7 linked regions of the Homo sapiens genome follow. The protein of the gene in region 1 interacts with the protein of each later gene in a pairwise test. Each region holds a gene or a part of one and is shown in the gene's direction. Other genes may lie near its edges.

What was found.
Region 2: the proteins of ATPAF2 (region 1) and EWSR1 interact in binary tests that used the Homo sapiens proteins (3 or more experiments, as listed by UniProt).
Region 3: the proteins of ATPAF2 (region 1) and ZNF19 interact in binary tests that used the Homo sapiens proteins (3 or more experiments, as listed by UniProt).
Region 4: the proteins of ATPAF2 (region 1) and LGALS9B interact in binary tests that used the Homo sapiens proteins (3 or more experiments, as listed by UniProt).
Region 5: the proteins of ATPAF2 (region 1) and EBF1 interact in binary tests that used the Homo sapiens proteins (3 or more experiments, as listed by UniProt).
Region 6: the proteins of ATPAF2 (region 1) and PKP4 interact in binary tests that used the Homo sapiens proteins (3 or more experiments, as listed by UniProt).
Region 7: the proteins of ATPAF2 (region 1) and CEP57 interact in binary tests that used the Homo sapiens proteins (3 or more experiments, as listed by UniProt).

The regions. Positions count from the first base shown.
Region 1 is NC_000017.11:18,017,521-18,019,844, reverse strand, and holds the end of ATPAF2 (ATP synthase mitochondrial F1 complex assembly factor 2), read left to right. Parts: intron 1-1,158; coding exon 1,159-1,296; 3' UTR 1,297-1,824; downstream 1,825-2,324. UniProt on the Homo sapiens protein: Plays a role in the assembly of the F1 component of the mitochondrial ATP synthase (ATPase).
Region 2 is NC_000022.11:29,292,268-29,295,767, forward strand, and holds part of EWSR1 (RNA-binding protein EWS), read left to right. Parts: intron 1-220; coding exon 221-339; intron 340-3,500. UniProt on the Homo sapiens protein: Binds to ssRNA containing the consensus sequence 5'-AGGUAA-3'. Might normally function as a transcriptional repressor. EWS-fusion-proteins (EFPS) may play a role in the tumorigenic process.
Region 3 is NC_000016.10:71,479,325-71,482,824, reverse strand, and holds part of ZNF19 (zinc finger protein 19), read left to right. Parts: intron 1-681; 5' UTR 682-710; coding exon 711-743; intron 744-3,500. UniProt on the Homo sapiens protein: May be involved in transcriptional regulation.
Region 4 is NC_000017.11:20,457,540-20,461,039, reverse strand, and holds part of LGALS9B (galectin-9B), read left to right. Parts: intron 1-596; coding exon 597-688; intron 689-2,655; coding exon 2,656-2,857; intron 2,858-3,500.
Region 5 is NC_000005.10:158,715,417-158,718,916, reverse strand, and holds part of EBF1 (transcription factor COE1), read left to right. Parts: intron 1-3,500. UniProt on the Homo sapiens protein: Key pioneer transcription factor of B-cell specification and commitment. Recognizes variations of the palindromic sequence 5'-ATTCCCNNGGGAATT-3'.
Region 6 is NC_000002.12:158,679,441-158,681,929, forward strand, and holds the end of PKP4 (plakophilin-4), read left to right. Parts: intron 1-988; coding exon 989-1,237; 3' UTR 1,238-1,989; downstream 1,990-2,489. UniProt on the Homo sapiens protein: Plays a role as a regulator of Rho activity during cytokinesis. May play a role in junctional plaques.
Region 7 is NC_000011.10:95,824,998-95,828,497, forward strand, and holds part of CEP57 (centrosomal protein of 57 kDa), read left to right. Parts: intron 1-2,788; coding exon 2,789-3,030; intron 3,031-3,500. UniProt on the Homo sapiens protein: Centrosomal protein which may be required for microtubule attachment to centrosomes. May act by forming ring-like structures around microtubules. Mediates nuclear translocation and mitogenic activity of the internalized growth factor FGF2, but that of FGF1.

The DNA.
Region 1 (2,324 bases):
TATGTATGTGATGGTATACAATGAAAGTATGGAATACTCTTCAGATGACATATTACAATTGTACAGTTTGGGACCAGGCAGCCCAGAAGTTCAAATAGCTTGTGTAGCATGGTGGATTCTGAGTTCCTGGATGAGCTGGGGCGGCCAGGCCAGGCCTCTTGGGCAACTAGCCAGGGAGGAGCCAGCAAGGTTTGGTTGGACTTACACTGTCTGGACAGCCACATCGTGTGTCTGAGCGTTCCTCCCTCTTGTTTTTAGAGCTCCAGACAGAGAATCTGCAACTTGTCCCCAGTGTGCAGAGCAGAGGCATCTGTAGTTCTGTGACTACCACAAGAGTCAGAGTTGAAGCCACTGCGTGGCCTTACTTGATTTAGTTATTCCACCCACATGGCGCTGGGGGGCACTTGTAGCCCAGCATGGCAAGGCAACTTGGAGAGGCTGTCCATTCACAGGCTTTCTGGGAGGAAGTGTAGGAGAAGGGATGGCACATAAGGCCTCCTCAAAGAAGTCACATGGGTGGTTCTGGTACCCAGCCTGCCCAGTGGTGGGTGGGCAGCCACTGGCCCTGGGCCTGGGCCTGGACTGCACTTCTTCCAGACCATCCATGCCACAGAGAGCACAGGTGCCTGCTCCGGCTCCCTGGGGGTGGGGTGGTGGGGTGTGTGTGTGTGTGTGTGTGTGTGTGTGTGTGTGTGTGGTGTTTTTGAGACAGGGTCTTGCTCTGTTGCCCAAGTGGGAGTGCAGCGGTGTGATCTTGGCTTACTGCAGCTTCAGCCTCCTGGGCTCAAAGCAGTCCTCCTACCTCAGTCTCTCAAATAGCTGGGACTACAGGTGCACCCCCACCACACCCAGCTAATTTTTAAACCTTTTTGTAGAGGCGAGGTTGCACCATATTTGCCCAGGCTGGTCTTGAACTCCTGGATTCAAGCAGTCTTCCTGCCTCGGTCTCCCAGAGTGCTGGGATTACAGGCGTGAGCCACCGTGTCTGGCGTACCTGGGTGTTCTTACCTGCCACCTCCCCCTAGGCATGTCTCATGTGTTTTGGCAAGATACAAACCTGTTGCCCTCAGCCAACCTATTGGAATGGAACGTGGCTTTGGTCAGGAGGCAGCCAGGCACTGGCCACTCACCCAGCAACTTGTCTTGTCCTTCCCTCAGATCCAGAAGTGGGGCAACATTGAGTGGGCCCATGACTATGAGCTGCAGGAGCTGCGGGCCCGCACCGCCGCCGGCACCCTCTTCATCCATCTCTGCTCCGAGAGCACCACAGTCAAGCACAAGCTCCTGAAGGAGTGAGGCCTGGGCAGAGCACACTCAGCAGGATAGAGGCAGTGCAGCCACAGCTCCCCCGGCCTTCAGGGCTCCCCAGCCTGTGGGGCTGGCTTCCTTGGCTTTTGGGGACTCGGCCTCAGCGTCACCCTGAGATTCCCCCCGAGACACAGTGCGCTAGTACGGCTGTCCGGAGGTCAGCCTGATTTCAACCCAGGTGCCCCTGGCCTGGCCAGCAGTGAATGTAGGAGATGAATTGTGCAAGTGACTTTCTCTCGACTCTGATTTTATTAAATATTTCTCCACCCTGGAAATGTGCTGAGCCCTGTTTTCACGTATGCCTCTGCACTTCTCCATTCTTCCTGTTTTGTCTAGGTTCCAGAGGGTTAAACAGCTTATCTCCCATGGCGTGTTTGGATATCTGCTGCCTGTGGTCAGGAACCTTGCACTGGGGAAACAATCATGTAATCCACAGACAACTCTATTTGTGTTCTTCAGCCTCAGCCTGAAGGCTTTTTTTTGGCTGGCTTTTAATCAAACAATCTTTTGAAACAATTGTGGTCTAAGCTGGTTGTTTCTATTTGTTCCTACTGTTCTAAAACAAATGATTTACTCTAGAAAGTAGAAAATAGAAGTTGTTTCTGGGCTAAAAGCCTGGACAGGCTTGACAAGGTCACCTGATGTGCATGTTTCCGCTCATCTCCCACCCAGGAGTCCTAAGGGTCCTCCTGACATAGCCACCTCTAGTGTCCCAGGAGGCAGGCGCTACTTTCTGGTGTCAGGCCAGTAAGAGGGCAGGGGGGAAGAGTGGTTCTCAGGCAGACAGGCTCTCTCAGCCCTGTGTCCTTGCCAGCCTGAGTAAGGTAATGGCATCAACCCTGCTCACAGGGCACTGATCGCATGCTGGGTGCCTCTCCACGCTTCCCATGCACTGTCTCCCTGAACTGTTCCTCGAAGGCACTGTGAGGTACTGTCACAGATGACACCAGGGCTGCGGGGGTGACATGGTGGAGCTGGGATGCCCTGCCTGCACTCTGCTCTTCTGGAGGGTCCTC
Region 2 (3,500 bases), on another chromosome or scaffold:
TGATATTCTTGCTGTCAAGGACAGTTTGGGAAATCCTATGTGAGCATCTACTCATAATTGCCTTAAGTGAAGTAAACCAAAAGTTTGATAGCATTCTTCTTAGTATGCTTGGTAGTTTTCTTAGATTTATGATGAATATCCTTGGGCAGTAGTGATCAGGTAGTTAAGAAACCCCTATAGATACATGATAATAATTCTCCTGTCTTGTTGTCTCTGAAAGGCCCACCTGTAGATCCAGATGAAGACTCTGACAACAGTGCAATTTATGTACAAGGATTAAATGACAGTGTGACTCTAGATGATCTGGCAGACTTCTTTAAGCAGTGTGGGGTTGTTAAGGTCAGTAAAAGCATAACCAGGTCATCTGGCAGAACTTTAAACCACAGAGCATTTTAAAGAGATTGAATTGATGTTGAGAGTTGTTTTCTAAGGTTGCCTTTGCCTGACTTCTTTCTAGGTATCTTATGGTTTGTTCCTTTTTAAAAAAGATTAGCCTTTTTTTTTTTTTTTTTTTGAGACGGAGTTTCCTTCTTGGTGCCCAGGCTGGAGTGCAATGGCGCAAGTCTTGGCTCACTGCAACCTCTGTTCAAGCGAATCTCCTGCCTCAGCCTCCCAAGTAGCTGGGATTACAGGTGTGCGCCACCAGCTAATTGTGTCTTTTTAGTAAAGATGGGGTTTCACCGTGTTGGGCAGGCGGGTCTCAAACTCCTGACCTCAGGTGATCTGCCCACCTTGGCGCCTCCCAAAGTGCTGGGATTACAGGTGTGATCCCCTACGCCCGGCCTTCCCTCCTCCACCCCTAGGGACAGAGTGTTGCTCAATCTCAGCCTCCCAGGTTCAAGTGATTCTCCCACCACAGCCTCTTGAGGTAGCTGGACTTATAGGCACATGCCACCACACCCAACTAATTTTTATATTTTTAGTGGAGATGGATTTTTGCCTGTTGGCCGGGCTGGTCTCTAACTCCTGGCCACCTCAAGTGGCCACCTACCTCAGCCTCCCAAATTGCTGGGATTACAAGCATGAGCCACTACACCCAACCTCAAATTATTGTGTCTTTATGCTAATTCTTCATAGCTAGTAACGCAGATTTTTTCTTCAGGGATTTTGACTGTTTTTCAGTTCTTGCTCTTCTGTATTAGAGTTAGTTTATGAACCCCATAAACCTCAAAACCTTAAAACCCCAATTGAATATTTACTAAATCTATGAAGTAATTTCAGGAGAATTTACATTTTTATGATACTGAGTGATCTTTTTTTCCCCATGAAGATTTTATTTCTCCATTTATTTGTATATTTATTTGCTTATTTATTTACTGAGACAGTCTTGCTGTGTCACCAGGCTGGAGTGCAGTGGCACGATCTCGGCTCACTGCAGCCTCTGGCTCCTGGGTTCAAGCGATTGTCCTGCCTCAGCCTCCTGAGTAGCTAGGATTACAGGTGCCCGCCACCACACCCAGCTAATTTTTGTATTTTTAGTAGAGATGGGGTTTGGTGAAACCATGTTGGTCAGGCTGGTCTTGAACTCCTGACCTCAGGTGATCTGCCGCCTCAACTCCCAAAGTTTTGTGATTGCAGACATGAGCCACTGTGCCTGGCCTGTCTCTATTTGTTATTTTATTTTACTTTGAGACAGAGTCTCACTCCTTCACCCGGCTGGATTGCAGTGGCGCAGTCTTGGTTTACTGTAACCTCTGCCTCCCGGGTCTCCTTGCCTCAGCCTCCCGAGTAGCTGGAATTACAGGCGCCTGCCAGCACCCCTGGCTAATTTTTGTAAGTAGAGATGGGATTTCACCAGGTTGGTCAGGCTGGTCTTGAACTTCTGACCTCACGTGATCCACCCACCTAGGCCTCCCAAAGTGCTGTGATTACAGGTGTGAGCCACCACACCCAGCCTATTTAGATCTTCAGTAAAGACTATCGATTTCCTTAAAGGTCTTGCAAATTTTACTAGTTTTACTTCTAGGTTTCGTTTATTTTCAAGTTGCTGTGGTTAAGGGTCTTCGTTAAATGACACTTTTCTGGTTATTACTGGTGTATAGAAATACAGTTGATTTGGCCGGGCGCGGTAGCTCACGCCTGTAATCCTAGCACTTTGGGAGGCCGAGGCGGGTGGATCACGAGGTCAGGAGATCGAGACCATCCTGGCTAACACGATGAAACCCCGTCTCTACTATAAATACAAAAAATTAGCCAGGCTTGGTGGCGGGCACCTGTAGTCCCAGCTACTCGGAGGCTGAGGCGGGAGAATGGCATGAACCTGGGAGGCGGAGCTTGCAGTGAGCTGAGATGGCGCCACTGCATTCCAGCCTGGGTGACTGAGTGAGACTCCGCCTCAAAAAAAAAAAAAAAATACAGTTGATTTTGGGCGGGCGTGGTGGCTCATGCCTGTAATCCCGGCACTATGGGAGGCCGAGGTGGGTGGATCACGAAGTCAAGAGATCGAGACCATCCTGGCCAACGTGGTGAAACCCCGTATCTACTAAAAATACAGAAATTAGCCGGGTGTGGTGACACGCGCCTGTAGTTGAGCTACTTGGGAGTCTGAGGCAGGAGAATCAGTTGATCCCAGGATGCAGAGGTTGCAGTGAGCTGAGATGGCGCCACTGCACTCCAGCCTGGCGACAGAGCAAGACTCCATCTCAAAAAAAAAAAGGAAATACAGTTGATTTTGGTAAATCTTATATAAGGTGATTTCTCCCTGCTTGTAGGTGTGTGTGTGCACAGATATCACACACACCTCAAAAGTAAAATGCTTTTAGTGTCTACTGTCACATTCTACCCTGTGCAAGACTCCTTGTTTGCTTTTTTGTTTTGAGATGGAGTCTTGCTCTGTTGCCCAGACTGGAGTGCAGTGGCACAATTTCAGCTCACTGCAACCTCCGCCTCCTGGGTTCAAGCCTCAAGCCTCTTGAGTAGCTGGGAGTACAGGCTTGAGCATATTAAAAAGACTGCTTTTTAATATGTATATAACATGTAGTTTATTGAGGAATGTGGAGTTTATCCTGGTTAAGAAAGTAGTATTTACCATCAAAATTTTGGAAATAAAGATGTTAAAATAGATTTCCAAGCTGGATACAGTGGCTCACATGTGTAATCCCAGCACTTTGGGAGGCCAAGGCAGGAGGATCCCAAGGATTGCTTGAGCCCAGGAGTTTGAGACCAGCCTGGACAACAGAGTGAGACTCTGTCTCACAAAAAAGAAAAAAATGCATTTCCACATTATTCATACCACAGTTTTGCCATATTTTCTTTTCAGTTTTTAGGTATCACGTTCCTTTTTTTAAGTCAGAGGTATCAATATATATATCCTGTTGTAATCTTTTTTAAGTCCTATAAATAGATTGCTCTTGTGTTACTGGATATATGTAAACAATTACAGACTAAACTGATCGTGTGCATATATAATGCAAAAAAGTACACGTGAAGATATTCTTATACAAGGTAGCTCCTGAATTCAAGTCAACCACATCTGATATTCAGCTGAAAGACTAGTCATC
Region 3 (3,500 bases), on another chromosome or scaffold:
GAGGCTGAGGCAGGAGAATTGCTTGAACCTGGGAGGCCGTGGTTACAGTCAGCTGAGATCACGCCATTGCACTCCAGCCCAGGTGACAGTGAGATTCTTGTCTCAACAAACAAACAAACAGACAAAAACATGACCTTTGAAGCCTGGCAGATCTAGTGTGGGATCCGAGTTCATCCATTCACCAGCTGAGTGATCTTGGTAGAAGAAATTATTCTCTTAGCCTTGTCTTCTCATTTGGGAAAAATTAAAGGTTCAAAAGATTGTTGTGAGGACTAAATAAGAGAATATGTATTTTTCATCCAAAAGCATGATACTTGCTATTTTTAACCTTTTATATTCTCAGTCAAATTTATTTTTAAAAATAAAGGTCTGAGATTCTTCTTGTTAGGTTTCGCTCTGAGTTTATTGGTGTCTTTTGCTTGTTTTGCTCTTCATTTAGCTTGGTGTTGGTGAGGACAGGCTCTGGTGTCCTAGGACAAGTTACTTATTCTTTCAAAATCTGTTTCCTCAGAATTACAAACCTCATGGTATGATGTGGATTAAAAAGTACATATTTATGCACCACTAACCCAGTGAGCATTTAGTAAGTGAATGCTGCTTGCTATTGGCAAATTTATTGCTCTAAAGAGAGCATTTTACTGGGCTGAGCTCACTGTTGGTTCTCTCTGTTTCTTCCCTCAGCCTTTGCCTGCTAAGAGGGAGACCAGGTCATGGCAGCCATGCCTCTGAAAGCTCAATACCAGGTGAGCTGTGGATCCCTGAGGTCAGCTCTATGGAGGTCTGAGTTGAAGGAAATGAGGTGGATAAAGGTGATTCTGGCAAGTCTTAGAGCCAAAGCAGTAGGAAAACCCCTGCTGATTCCCTCCAGTAGGACTGGGTGCTGGGGAAAGAGCTAGGGGCAGTGAAGATGGAAACAGGAGAGAGTGATCTGGAAAGCTGAAGTACAGCCTCCTGAATACTGAGAATCTCTCCTGGGCCAGAGGATCCCCAGGTTCAGTAGCTGTCCCTCTGCAGAGGGAATTGTGAGAACGAGGGACTCAGGCTGGTGATGTAGGGATCCAGGATAGGATGGAAGTGACTAAGATCAGCAAGGGCACAAGGTTTTTGGGAAGTAGCAGCAGAGGGACAGCAGGAAGAAGACAAGAAAGAGGGGGCCTATCTAATTTGTCCTCCAAAAGAAAGGAGGAAGTTTGGGCTTCAGAATCAGGAAACATATGTCCTTGAGGTCAGTACTGCTGGCGAAGTGAGGCAATGGGCTGTGATAGGAAAAGTCTACACTCCCAACAGGACACCTGAAGTTAGGGATCTGTTAGGCCTCAGTGGCATCATAGCCTTGAGCCAGTCACATAATTGCTTTGCATCTTAACTGGATTCATTTGTAAGGTGAACATAAGTACCTTACATTTTTGGGACAGAGAATTGATTTCTTGAATTACATTTCACTTTTTGAGACGGAGTTGCTGCTTTGTCATTTCTTTTCTCCTGGCACTTATTTATCCAGTAACTTAGTATCCATGAACCATATCCCAAATCATAATCTCATATTTCTCACATCCTTCAGTTTTCTCTACCTGACTGTGTCACTGATATATCAGCTTCCTTGGAGCTCCCACCCTCTTCTGGTTTTTCCACAAGTGTCTGACATCACACTATATTGCAGTCCTGATCACTCAGTTTCTAAATTGCTGTGTAATTGTTGACTATGTTCTCCCCTGATACCATTTCCAGAGAGACACAAAGTCTTGTTGTTTTTCCTTCTCTCTCTGCCACTTGTGCCATCTTTCAGATTACATTTAGAGTTTGTTGTTCCTTCTCTGGAATTTTGTTTGCAGCGCTTCCCGGATAGATTCTCTGTGTATAGTTGTGCACCTTTCCATCACTTTGTCACCTAATACAGCTCAGTTTCCTGAGTTTGGATTTTATCCTCCAATCCAGGGTTCTCAGACTTCAGTGTACATCAGAATTACCTGGAGGGCTCACTGAAGTATGGACTTCTCTCAGAGTGGGGCCCAAGAATTTGCCTAACAAATTCCCAAGTGTTGCATCCGCTACTGGTGGTGGTCTGGAGACCACACTCTGAATACCACTGCTCTAGTTAGTGGTGATTCATTCAAGAGGTTCATTCAGGAGTTGATGAAGTCAGGTTGTCAGCTGGGCAGAGGATAGATTCAGTGTGGGACAAGACTGGAAGTAGAGCTAAAGTGTCCCCAGCTGTTGACCTAGTTTACTGATTGTACCACAGTGAAGAAGAGTCAGATTCCAGAAATAACGTAGGTAATAAAATTGGCAGGACTTGAGTATTAACTGTCAGCAATGAGTGATGATGGGGGTTAGAATGTCTAGGATTAATCTGAAGTTCTAGCATTAGAGACTGGGTTGAAATTGGTGTTATCAACAGAGAGGGAAAAATATTGTCACACTGCCACTTAGTTTATATAAATTAGAAAGGAAGCCATTTTGGGGAAGATGAGTTTGGGGTTGCTTGGTGAGTCAGTGTGTTGGGTCATCCAGAGAGTCTGAGGCAGTGCTGGGATGAGGGGGATGTGGATATGTGCAAAATCAGTTGAGGCATTGGAAGGTCGGAGTGTATTCCCTGAGCACTCCGGTAACGAAGTTCAATACCAACATCTGAGGAGTGAATAGAGGCTCTAAACCAGATGCCAGAACTTTGTGGAAAGGTAGAGTTGAGGCCAGCAGGGAGGGAGAAGGGTGTCTGTTGAAAAAGCATGAGGGGCTGGGCATGGTGGCTCATTCCCGTAATCCCAGCACTTTGGGAGGCCGAGGCAGACGGATCTCTTGAGTCCAGGAGTTTGAGACCAGCCTGGGGAACGTGGCAAAACCTTGTCTCTACAGAAAATACAAAGATTAGCCTGGCATGGTGGTGTGCACCTATAGTCCCAGCTACTCAAGAGTCTGAGGCGGGAGGATCACCTGAGCTGGGAGGTCGAGGCTGCAGTGAGCTGAGATTGTGCCACTGCACTCCAACCTGGGTGACAGAGCAAGACACTGTCAAAAACAGAAAAAAAAGAGAAAAAGAACCAAAACCGAAAGAAAGAAAGAAAAAAAAACCCAAGAAGCATGAGGCTTGGTTGGCAGAAGCTATTACAGATTGTCTTGGAGCTATAAAGATAAGGAGCTAAAAGAGCTACCCAGCAGCAGCAATTTAATTCTAGAAGCATGGTTTTCTAGGAAAAGCCATCAAGGAGCAGAGTGGATTGTGCCAGGAGACTCTGAGCTCCCTCTACAGGATGCTCTTGAGCACAGGCAGCCCAGTCCTTTATACAAGAATCGAATGGGAGTCGGATGAGATAGGCCCATCAGTGCAAACCATGACTCTGTGCTTGTTTCATGGGCATAAGGTTTGGGGCAGGGTGAACACATGTGGGGAACAGATAGATTGGCTGAGAATAGGGAGTACCTAATAGGAATAGGTGGGTCCTGAGATACCATTTGAAGCAAATTGTCCACCTGTAGGTACAAAAGTAAAAGACTGAAAATAT
Region 4 (3,500 bases), 2.4 Mb from region 1:
CTGAAGGTGGTCAGGAGGGCAAAGGTCATGGTGGCCATTGTTATATGGTGGTGGTGGGGAGAGGTGCATGCCTTCTTCTTGACACTCTCTGGTGACCCTCTCGGTGGAACCTGCAGACCCTTGATGGGTCCCTTTGTTCCCTTGGGCCTCCTGAGTCCCCAGCCAGGGCGCTGGGCACTTTGCTGGGAGCTTGGCATGGGGTCCAGCAGCCCCATTGCTACCTAGTTCCTTACCAGCCCAGGGCGTCTGCCTGCTACTTCCCTGCCTGGAAGGAAGGCCTTCCGCCTGGAGCGTTCCTGGTGTGGCCTCCGCTGCCTCTCAGACTCTCACACAAGCTCAGCTCCCTGTCGCGTCCTCTCAGGGCCAGGATTCTCCTTATCACAAGCTTAGACTGTCTGAGTAACTAATTGGATTTGTGTCTGCCTCCACACAGGACCCTAAGACCCGTGGGGCTGAGACTCCTTCTGTCCTGGTCACAGCTGCACCCTAGCCCCTCGCATGGTGCGGTCACACCCAGGCCAGCCACTGACTAGCCCCGAAGGGGAGCAAACAGGAGGCCGGCCACCTGACTGAGGCCCCATGTCTTCTCCCTGCAGGCCGTCCCCTTTTCTGGGACTATCCAAGGGGGTCTCCAGGACGGATTTCAGATCACTGTCAATGGGGCCGTTCTCAGCTCCAGTGGAACCAGGTGTGTGTATATGGATGGAAACGTTTCACTCCAGCCTCGTCCCTTAGTAAAGCCACTGTGCCTGTGAGCCTCGGTTAGTTCAAACAACAACATCCAAGCTCACGTGCCTGGCGCAGGGGAGACCCAATGCATCCTTAACCCATGCCACAGGACAGCACTCCACAGGCACAACCTGCACCCAGGGATGCCATTAACCTGGACTCCAGGATGAATGGGGCCCTGGGAGCTGAAGGTCTAAGGAAGGAGTGGGATGGTCAGAGTTGGATGATTATGTTCTGGGCTGAACCTTGCACACTGTGACTGAGAGTTGCAAAAATCAAACTTCCTCCGTTTCCCATAACTGCTTTCATCCACTCTGAAGCTCTCCTTCTGCTGACATGAAAATACTGAAAATTGACATCCGAAGTAATTTGGTCTCTTTCGGTTTCAAGGCCTTTTCTGGAAACTACTAAGTCCATTCAAAATACTAACATTGTATCAGGGCTGTTTCCCACCCCTTCCTCCCTCCCAAGGTGGGCTGTCTGGGAACAGAGAGGAGCTCACGTGGCTTGTCAGTGGCTGGGAGGGCCCCCGACCCTCACGCAGGCCTGGCTGACCCCTGCCGAGGCATCCTGACTGGGTGGCACAGAGGTGTGCAGCTCTCTCCTGGTTTAGTGAGGGACCACGGGTGGCTGCCTGCTGAAGTCTGCGGGGCCCACAGAAGAGCCTCTGGACTCATGGCTCTCTCTCGGAAGCCTCTCTGCCTCAGTCCCAGTGGACCTCTCTTAAGACCCTCTGGGCCTCGTAGATGCCAGCTCAACCTCAGCTCCGCCACCTAGATTCTTGATGACCTCCTCCGCCATTGCTATCCTGCTGTCGGACTTCTCTGAGAGCCTGCAGTGCCCCCAGGAGATGCCAAGGGCAGGGAGGCCCTGATCCCCCTGAATCCTCCAACCGGGGGAATCAGAACCATGCCTCTGATCTTCCACCCCTTCCTCTTTCCCTCTCCCTCTGTTTCCCCCACCTCCCAGCACCAGGAGGGCTTCCCACTCCCATCCTGTTGCACAGAGACAGATCCTACCTCAGAGGGCCCTCTCCTCTCAGGAGCTTTCTGTCTCTCCCTTCCTTGGGGCAGGAATTTCCAAAGGGCCACAGGAATGAAGCTGAAGGTCTCCAAAGGAAAAAAATACATGCAGTGATATTTCAAATGCAATCTTCTCCATTTATTCATTTAATTAATTTATTTTTTTCTTTAGAGACAGGGACTTTTTTCTTTCACCCAGGCTGGAGTGCAGTGGTACGATCATAGCTCACTGCAGCCTCGACTTCCTGGGCTCAAGGGATCCTCCCATCTCATCCCCCAGAGCAGCTGGGACTATAGACATGCATCATGATGTCTAGCTAATTAAATATATATATATATCTTTTTGTTTTTTAAGTAGAGATGAGATCTCGCTCTGTTGCTCAGGCTGGTCTTCAACTCCTGGGCTCAAGTGATCCACCCACCTTGGCGTCCCAAAGTGCTGTGATTACAGGCGTGAGGCACTGCGCCCGGCCCCGATTTCACATGCTCTTTACATTTGTTCTCTTCTTTCGCACTTAATCAGGCATGTGCTGGCCTCCAACAAGTGTCCACTGGCACAGAAGCCTCTCTCTTCTAGGTGTGCTTAACAACTTCCATCTTTGTTACCAACTGGTAATCACTTTCCAGGACCTATGCTTCTTGTTTGCTAATGCCAGCACTTTCCCTTAGCCATTTTCTACTTATGTTTAGAAAATCGTGCTGTAAAGGCAAAATGCAATAATCGCACAAAAACACATTGGATCCAAATTAGAGAAACAAAAACGATGCCAACCAAGCAGTCTCTGCCACGCAGGTTGTATGCAAGATCCCAGACAAACACAGGGCAGAGGCACCGAGGCCCTCCTGTGCCTGTCACTGGCAATAATCCATGCCACAGAAGACTATTTGCTTTTCCTGGGCCTAGGTTTGCTGTGGACTTTCAGACGGGCTTCAGTGGAAACGACATTGCCTTCCACTTCAACCCTCGGTTTGAAGACGGAGGGTATGTGGTGTGCAACACGAGGCAGAAAGGAAGATGGGGGCCCGAGGAGAGGAAGATGCACATGCCCTTCCAGAAGGGGATGCCCTTTGACCTCTGCTTCCTGGTGCAGAGCTCAGATTTCAAGGTAAGCAGGAATCCCCTCCCCACCTCTCGCCCACGGGACTCCCAGCCCTATCAGGTGAATGTGAATGGCCTTTTAAGTAACCACTTTAATTGACATTCAGCCAGAGTGACACCACCATACAGATAACATGACCATTTCCTTGTAAGGGTGTTACCCATGGCTGTGTAGTCTCCTTACGCACCTTCACCTGAATCTACAGGTGCACCTCCTGCTTCTTTTACTCTGAAAATAAGAACTAGAGGAGTCATCACGTTGCTGTTAGGTGTTGTGTGTCTTTGAATTCCAAGCTCATTCCATTCCTCTGCTATCACCATACCTCCTCTCCAGGTCCCTGGTAACATTTATTTTTCAGCGACATTGTTCCAGCCTTTATCCAGAGTCTATTACGGTTATAGTTCTGTAAGCACATTGCAAATTACCTTTGCAAGCACAGTAGGTCTCTGGGCTTGAGAAGCCGGTGGGTAACTCAGTCTGAATATGCTTATCTGAGATAAGGATGTTCCCATCCATTCAGTATGCAACCCGATGTCACCTCTCCTCTGCTCCCCGTGAGCATTTTATGCATATTTAAATAATACCCCTGCAGTCCTAAAAAGGAATGAGATCATGTCCTTTACAGGAACATGGATGGAGCTGGAAGCCG
Region 5 (3,500 bases), on another chromosome or scaffold:
AAGTCTGCAGTCTAGCTATGGAGAATGATGACTAACACACTTCAGATCAGAGCAGAATGACCTCTCAGTATATACTTCTGTGCTGTGCTGGGTGACACAGATGGTCAGCACTCTTTTTCAGAGGAAATAGAGATATTAGGAGCTGGGGTATCAGTGAAGGTGGAATTATTTCTGATAGAACAGTGTGATTTTCAAGAGCCAGGCTCTGATGTCTAACAGGCCTGGGGTTGAATCCATGCTCAGCCACTAGTCAGCGGTGGAAACTTTGGGAAAGTTAGCTGACCTCTCTGAGTGTCAGTTTCCTCATCTGCCAGATAGTAATAGAAAGAATACCTTAAGAGGCTTTCTATGAAGGTTGAATGAGTTCTTGCTCCACTTTCAATAAATGAGAGTGATCTCCTTCATTACCATACCATCACGATCCCCTTCAGTACGAGGCTTCAGAGGATGGAGAGAGGCATTGTCCATGGGCACAGATTGAAGCCAGCATTCCCTCCAAAAAAAGGGGAAGGCAAAAGGAGTGAAGGTATGGAGATAGAAAGGAGCCAAATGTTTTACTTCTAGGCTGGGGAGGACAAGCATAGAGAGCAGTTCTTCAAATACATAGGGAGAGATGACTGGACAAAGATGGTAGGACCAAGTGATGGCGACAATCTTTTGTGACTCTCATCAAACTTTGTAGGTCGATGCTGGGAAGATAATGTGCCCTGAAAGTTGCTGGAGAATAAGATCCACATATGATGACAGACAAGGGCAACAAGAAGCTCAAACAATATTTGCTAATTGGGTTGCAAAGTAGAAAGTAAAGCTGAATCTTCCCTTTATATTTGTAGCCCATTCAGCATTTTTATTATAAAGCTTCCAAAATATAAGTAAAACCCATGCCAGCTACATTTGAACTGTTTCTTGGAACCCCATTCCTCCTTCGGTCTCCCTAACATTTCTGTAGACTCTAAATAGAGTAAGAATAATGCATCCACATTTTTCTCCATAGAACCCCACTCACATAACCATCAACCTATGGTCATAGCAAGACAGGTGAAGCCACGTTTTGATAGTGAGATGAAATCAATCAGTGAAAAGTAGTTGTTGTTTTTAAGGAGTAAAGCTTTTTTGTATCTTTAAGAGAGAAGAAATCCAAGGCCATGAGCAGAAAAATTGTCTGACTCAGAATGTAGATTGGAGAACAAACATTACCTCTACAAGGAGACTCTGGGGCTTTTCAATATTTAGGATACTAGTATTTGTCTTTAATTCCCAAAAGGGATTTTTAAAAAAAAAAAATCCAAGGATAGGATTAATTATCTTGGAATTGTCTAATATCCACTCTTATGTTTGAAATTGCAAGCAGGGAGACGTTTTAAACATTATGAAAAGAAGAGAAAATCTCCCCTGACAAATAAATGCCTTGAAACATTAGATATTAGTACTAGTCAAGTGCTCTTTCTTTTCAGAAATATTAAAATTGCATATTAAAATGAAAGATCCTTAGACTGTGCTCCTGCCTAATGCCACAAAAAATAAGAATTTAAGAACAATTTTAGAGACAAAAGATTATATGAAACATCCAGCTCTTCCCCTTATGGGAAATTTCTTTTTTTAACATCCAAGGCTCAATCATTTCCTAATGTGAAATTACAGATTTTTCAAATTACCATATAAAACTGCAAAAAAATTACACTTGTGACCACAGAAGAGATGGCATACACTATCAATTTGATTTTAAAAGGCATACATCTTTTATACTACCTGTCATTTTTATAATGCCTTTTACAAATTTAATCAATACATTTTAACATTCTATATACTTTAAGTGCAATATACAATAAATATTCAAGTTTCATCTTAAACATGCTTTAGCCTTTAAATTGTTAAAACTGCAGTGCCCTTTCAATCTACTTACATAATGTCATAAAATATACATTTCAAGGTAAATGAAGTCAGCTACTTCAATTTAGTCCCTCAAACTGGTAGTAAATGAGAGGTTAACACTATGGTGCCAAACCCATTATTGAGTAAATTTAGCACCTTGGACAGCTCTGTAAAATCTTTATTGCTTTCCTGACCTGCTCGTCATGTTCTGTCTGTGTGTTCAGTGGCTCTCAGCTCTGATTGAAAGGCAATATATTAGATCCCCAACACAAACACGCCTGGGGGCTAGTTCACTGGGAGCGTAATGACATGGAGGTGAGAGCAATTTTCTGGTCACCGAAATCCAAGCAGTTTGCAGGTCCATTGCACTAACTCATGGAGGACCCAGAAATTTCCTTTCTCCTTCCCATTTGCAGAAATACCTAATAGAAGCCAAATCACATGGGCAAAGCTCAACCAAGTCTTTCTTAAGTCCTTACAAGTTGATACTACAGTGAAGGATATTTTTTAATGGGTAAGATATTATTTAAGGGTGTCCCTTTCAAGACAAGAAATCCAGGTTCACACTCCTCAAATCCAAGACTGCTGGCCTGAAGTGATGCTGTACTGATGACCTACCTATGGCAATGTACTCAATGGGAAAACATGCCCCAGCATGGTGGATCAAAGAAGGCAGCATCATGGATCAAAGAAGGATGCTCCTTTAGGAAACAAGATCCACGTGTTTTATTCTCAAAGGATTAAATGGGGATGAGAGCTCTGGATATCGACATAAGGAGAAAAAAAAAAGTAGATTTTGTCATTGAAAAACTCTATCACCAAGGATATATAATATATACTGATAGATGGTATGTTTTCAGGCTTATGAAAACTTCAAAGATCTTGGAGTTTAATTTTGAACTTCCCTCCTCCCTGCTTCTGTGAAATTAATTAAAATAAGGTACACTGCTCTAAGTCCTCAATTATAGTGTTACAAGAGTGAAGTTCACAAGTGCAGTTTCTTTCTGTGCCTCATCACGCTTTTGACAAACGGGAGACTTGCCTTTTTCCCCCCTAAAATGGAAAGAAAGGAAAATACGTTCCCTGCCAAGCCCCAACACTGGCATAAATATTTATTTGGAGAAATAAATGAACATAGGCCTAGAGAAGTCTAATCTTAGTAAATAAACTCACTTGATCCTGTTTTTTGTTTTCATCTTTCCTAAGAGCCAGATAAAGCCAAGAGGTTTTAGTGAAGGCAACACAGGCTGAATTTGATCTGGGGATAGGGTTTAGTGTGCCCGTACAATAGTAAATTATTAACTGCTGTGGTCAGACACTACTACAGCAAACAAAAAGTGGTAAATTAGCTTGTAGCTTACATTAAAAAATAAAGAAATGATTTCAGATGTATTGGTTCAAATCCCTTTGATTATATAATGTTCTTTACTCCCTACATGAAAAATAACTAAACTGTTTTATAAAGGGGGTCTATCAGCTTAAGGCAAGCATAAATGTTTATTGAGAACTGAAAACCCCACTATCTTATTTTTGAATTTAGGACATTAGATATGTCATAAGTAGTTACTGTAGTATGACAACTACTTTATCTTATATTATAGAGAATTTAAAATTGAAAAATGCTAATA
Region 6 (2,489 bases), on another chromosome or scaffold:
GTTTTTTAGTCAGGAAAAATAGACCAGAATCATAACTCTGGCTTGAAAGGAGAATTTAGCTCTGAAATCCTTATAATGTTAGAATGCATTGAGTTCCAGGACATGACATTGGTTTCTATGTGGTAAATTTGTTACATCTTACTAAGTAGGGGGATTTGGGCATAATCAAGAACATAGACATAATAACCATCACAATTTGAAGAAATTAGTGTGAGGTCAAAGCTAAGACTGAACAAAAGGAAATGGAGAGCAGTGTGCCCTGTGTGGGTGCCCACGTGTGCCTGGTCTTGCCCACTTACAGATGGACTTAGCCCTGGCTTGGGGAAGCCTTTTCCTCTAGAACCATATTTGCTCACGTGTGTCTCCTAATTTTACTATTCTTCTGCCTTGAGATTGCTTATTCCTTTAATATTACAACTTACAGCAGAGTTTCCAAAGTGTGACTGTTGTTCACCTAGCCACATACATCTTTTAAAATGTAGGGGTGGACTCCATCTTCATATCTGAAGTAAATGTTCTAAAAGATGGTTCGGTAATTATACAATTATCCAAGGCCCAGAAACCCAGTCCTTGACTAAATTAGTGATGTGCTAATAATTCCCCTGTGTCAAACCAAATATCAAGACCATCCTCTCATTCGGCATGCCCAGGTAACAGGTGCCTCCACAGCTGAGCACACAGCAGGGCCTCCAGTAAAGAGGGGAGGTTTCTGGGGCCACCTGCCCTGAGATCTCAGGCTTTCTTGAGGCACCTGCTTCTCTAGAGGTCTTAGGACAGGAAACTCAGCAGCCTGCCTGAGAATGCAGCTTAAAATCCTTAGAGTCCAATAGTAAACGCATAGTGTGCACCAGAAACAGCTTTTAACCTTAAACTGCAAATATTGAATATTGCTTTAAAAATATGAAGCAGGAAGCCCACATTAATTTTCCTAACACATGTATTTTTAAAAAATTGCTTTTATTTATTTGCCTTTTCATTTTGTCAACAGCATCAACAGCTGTATTATAGTCAAGATGACTCCAACAGAAAGAACTTTGATGCATACAGATTGTATTTGCAGTCTCCTCATAGCTATGAAGATCCTTATTTTGATGACCGAGTTCACTTTCCAGCTTCTACTGATTACTCAACACAGTATGGACTGAAATCGACCACAAATTATGTAGACTTTTATTCCACTAAACGACCTTCTTATAGAGCAGAACAGTACCCAGGGTCCCCAGACTCATGGGTGTAGCATCAAGATGCCCAACAGAGGAACTCTTTCTTTCTAACCTTGTTCAGATTGAGGTGAAAAGTCCATCTTGCTGATTTGATGATTGAAATGTGAAAGTGAAGTGGAAGGAATGAATGAAGTGTGTTTTTTTTTTCTTTTTTGAGGAATTATCAGGGAAGTGAGGAAATGTTTGGGAGAGGACTTTCTAAGCTCTATTTAGGTGTTAGATCTAATTACTTATAGATTCTGTAGTCTGGTGAAGGTGTGGGTGACGTGATGAGAGGTTTGAGAAATGGGTGAAATGAAATGGGGGATATGTAGGTCAAATCAAATTAAAGATGATTTTTTTAATGTGAATAAAGTTATGTTCTGATAGTTTGTACAGAAAAAATAAAATGGATGCCCATGTTTTATTGCTATTACTAAATGTCAAGATTGTATGCTATTATGTCTTGTAAATTTCTTTTGTTGGTGTAAATATGGAAATGCCACATTGGTTAAGTGCCATCATTTGTAATGCAATGTGTCACTTGAAAAGAGATTTGAAGAAACTGACAACTTCAAAAACAAATGAGAAGCCCAAGGAACTGTGAGCAATTAAAAGCAAACCGCGACACCCTTTGTCTCCACCACACATAGTGTACTTTGGAAGCACAACGTCCAGGCTGGTACCGCAGCGCCATGCCCATTCCTCGCCTCATTCATAGGACACTTCACTGCCATTTTCTATTCACATAAAAGAAAAATAAATGTGGAAATTTCATCCTTGGAAATGTGTTCTCTATTCTTTTTAAATTTTCTGTATGTATATGGAAAAGCAGATTTAATAAACACAAATCTAACTGCATGTTGGAAACAGCTTAAATATATCCAACTATTTTGGACTTTTCCTAGTTTTATATATACTTTGTGAGATGGACCACACCAAAGAATTAAGCTATGAACTTTCCTTCTCTGACAATCTAGGTATTTTTATTTCTTGGAATCTATTTCAAATCTAGTACCCTTCACAGTTTTATCATGTTTTTCTATATGGCAGCCCGGCCATAACTAAATTGATATAACTAAATTGATACCTTTTTTAGGCATCATTTTTAAGAACTCAGTAACTTCATAAGAACAGTGGTTGGGCATTTATTTGGTTGGCACCAATATAATAAAACAAATTCTAAATTATGATCTTGTTGAGTAATTCCTGGATTAGGAATGGGGTAGGGGAAAGAAGCCCCACAGTAGGGTAGGCAGAGGTCCCCATAGCACCACACAGCATTAC
Region 7 (3,500 bases), on another chromosome or scaffold:
TAATACTAGGCATTGCCCCTAGCTACCCAGGAGCATGGAAGTTCAACACCAAAGGCATGGAAGTAGTCTACTTGTCCCTAAACACAGTGTGTCTAATTCACCCTCTGGATCAGGGAGCATAAGGACTTCTAAGGCACATTACATACACTATAAAAAGGGTTCTTAATGCTGTGGAAGAGAACTTCAGAGAGAACATTATGAGGGTCTGGAAGGATTACAGTTGAAGATGATGCCATCATTTTTATAGAAAAAGTCATGAAAGCCATCAAGTCTGAAATAATAAATTCCTGTTGGAGAAAACTCTCCAGGTGATATGCATGATTTCACAGGATTTATGACAAAGCCAATCATGAAAAAGATGGTAGATATGGCAAAAAAGGTTGGAGGTGAAGGATTTCAAGATACGAATTTTGGAGAAATTAAAGAGTCAGTAGACACCATGATAGAGGAATTAACAGAAGATGACTGGGATGGATAAGAGTGCTTTCAAACCAGTGCCACAAGATGAAGAAGACAACACAGAAGTAATGTCAGAAAACAAGTTGACATTAGATAATCTGACAGAAGGGTTCTAATTATTCAAGACTGCTTTTGACTTTTTTTTTTTTTTTTTTTTTGAGACGGAGTCTCGCTCTGTCACTCAGGCTGGAGTGCAGTGGCACGATCTCAGCTCACTGCAACCTCTGCCTCCTGGGTTCAAGCAATTCTCCCACCTCAGCCTCCCAAGTACCTGGACAACAGGCACGCGCCACCATGCCTGGCTAATTTTTGTATTTTTTTAGTAAAGACAGGGTTTCTCCATGTTGGCCAGGCTGGTCTCGAAATCCTGACCTTAGGTGATCCACCTGCCTCAGCCTCCCAAAGTGCTGGGATTCTGTAATCCCACTGTAATCCCAGTGGCTGAGCCACTGCGCCCAGCCTGCTTTTGACTTTTACGACATCGACCCTTCTATGATACATCACTGAAACTAAAACAAATGGTGGAAGAATTGGTATCTCATAGAAACATTTTTAGAGAAATGAAAAAGCAGAAAAGTCAAGACAAATTATAGTGTATTTCTGTAAAGTTACACAGAATGTGCTAGCCTCTCCTGCCTCCCCCTCCACTTCTTCTGCCTCTGCCACTCCTGAGACAGCAAGACCAACCCTACCCTTCTGCCTACTCAACAGTGAAGATAATGGGGATGAAGGCCTGTATGGTGATCCAGTTAATGAATAGTAAATATACTTTCTCTTCCTTAGGATTTTCTTAATATTTTTTTCTAACTTTACTTTTAGAATATTGCTTACAATACATAAAACAAAAATGCTTCCAGTCAACAGCAGGCTATTACATTTTAGGGCAAAATTTATTATAGTTCTCAGTTACATAAGTGGGAGCTGAATGATCAGAACCCATGGACACATAGTGGGGAACAACATACACTGGAGCCTGTTTGGTGGGGGAGTTGGTCAACGGGGAGGGAGAGCATCAGGAAGAGTACCTAATGGATGCTGGGGTTAATACCTAGGTGATGGGTTGATCTGTGCAGCAAACCACCATGACACACATTTACCTATATAACAAACCTGCGCATGTACGCCAGAACTTAAAAGTTGAAGGAAAAAAAAATTTCATTATGGCAGAGTTTTGACTACATGGGTGGTCGGTGCCCCTAACCCCTCCATTGTTCAAGGGTCAAGTGCATATTAATATAATCAGAAAAATAACAGAACGAGAATTTTTTAAATTATTGCATATTGAAAGTGTACTCATAGGCAATTAGTATGCTAAATATATATTACAAGTTACGAGCAAAATAGTGGTTACATCGATTGATTTTTGAATAGTGGACCAGCCTTGCATTGATGTAATAAACTCCCACTTGGATGTGATATATAATACTGCTGCATTCACTTTGCTAGCTAACAATAGAAACTAAGATTAGAAGGAAAGCATATGTTTAGCTTAGCATGGTGGTTCCAAATCTGGCTAATCAAAATCAACTGGAGGACTTGAAAACACAAATTTCCAAACCCTAACTCTGCAGTGAGTTTGGTGTGCTGCCTAGGAACCTGCATTTTAAATATGCTTTCTAATAATATTTATGGAGCCAAGTAAGCCCAGCCATCTATTTATAAAGTGGAATAGTACATTGAGATTGTTGGTTTAGTGTTTAAAACAAAAGCAAAATATCTTTGAGAAGTCTATCAGGTTTTTCTTACACACGTGATAGACATGTAATTTAGTGCTTCCTATTATTCCAGGATACAGAAATGAACAATAGTGTCTACCACCTGGATGTACACTGTTTAATAGGTGAAATAGATATGTAAAAGCAATTAAAATATGATAAATGCTATGAGAGAGATGTAAAAAGTGTTATAGGTGATCTGATAATGGACTGATTGATTACCTGGCAGTTTTAAGGAAGCCTTTAAAAATAATATATTTGAACTGGGTTTTAAAGAATGATATAAATGTTGCTAATACACCAAAAAAATGTCATCTGCAAATATGGTTTGTTCACAAAATGGAGAGAAGGGGAGGATGATAGGACATGAGGCTAGGAAATGTAGGTTGCAGCTCAATGATGTGTATGTAGGGCCTTATTTTCCATTCTGAAACATAGTTAGTGGATTTATATCAAAGGATTTCAAATAGAAGAACATCATGATGAGAATAATTTTAGGATTTATATACTCTACTTTAGGGGGTGGAGAGTTCTTTTTACCTAGGCTTAGGGAATAGAAAGTGGTGTAGAGAATATAACTTCAATTACTTCTTTCATCATTTTTCTTCCTTTAGTCCACAAGCCCTAGCCATGCCGTGGTAGCCAATGTTCAGCTTGTCTTGCATCTAATGAAGCAACACAGTAAAGCTTTGTGCAATGATCGAGTCATCAACAGTATTCCTTTGGCAAAGCAAGTATCTTCACGAGGTGGTAAAAGTAAGAAGTTGTCAGTAACACCTCCCTCCTCCAACGGTATTAATGAGGAGTTGTCAGAAGTCTTACAGACTTTACAGGATGAATTTGGGCAAATGAGCTTGTGAGTTTTTGTTTTTTTTTTTAAATTCAGTTTAGCTCTAAAACCTCATTTTTTAAAAACTTGTTGACTTTATTAAATCTTACTTTCCTTTGTTGAGCAAGTATGGTTGAGCACAATCCTTATACCAACCAAGTTACTGGGACTTTAACAAATACAACTAATAAGGGTAAAATCTCTCTCTTTTTAAATACTGTTAAATGTTTTGAAGACCAAGGTTTATATTTAAGTTTTATTTCTTTGAGAACTTATGATATACAGTCATGCATCACTGAATGACAAAGATGTGCTCTGAGAAATACATCATTAGGCGATTTTCTTTTCCTTGTGCTAACATAAGAGTGTGCTAAGCTTATAGCTTATTGCTCCTAGGCTACAAACCTATACAGCATGTTACTCTACTACTAAATACTATATGCAGTTGTAACACAATGGTAAGTATTTGTGTATATAAACATCTAGGTAGAGTAAAA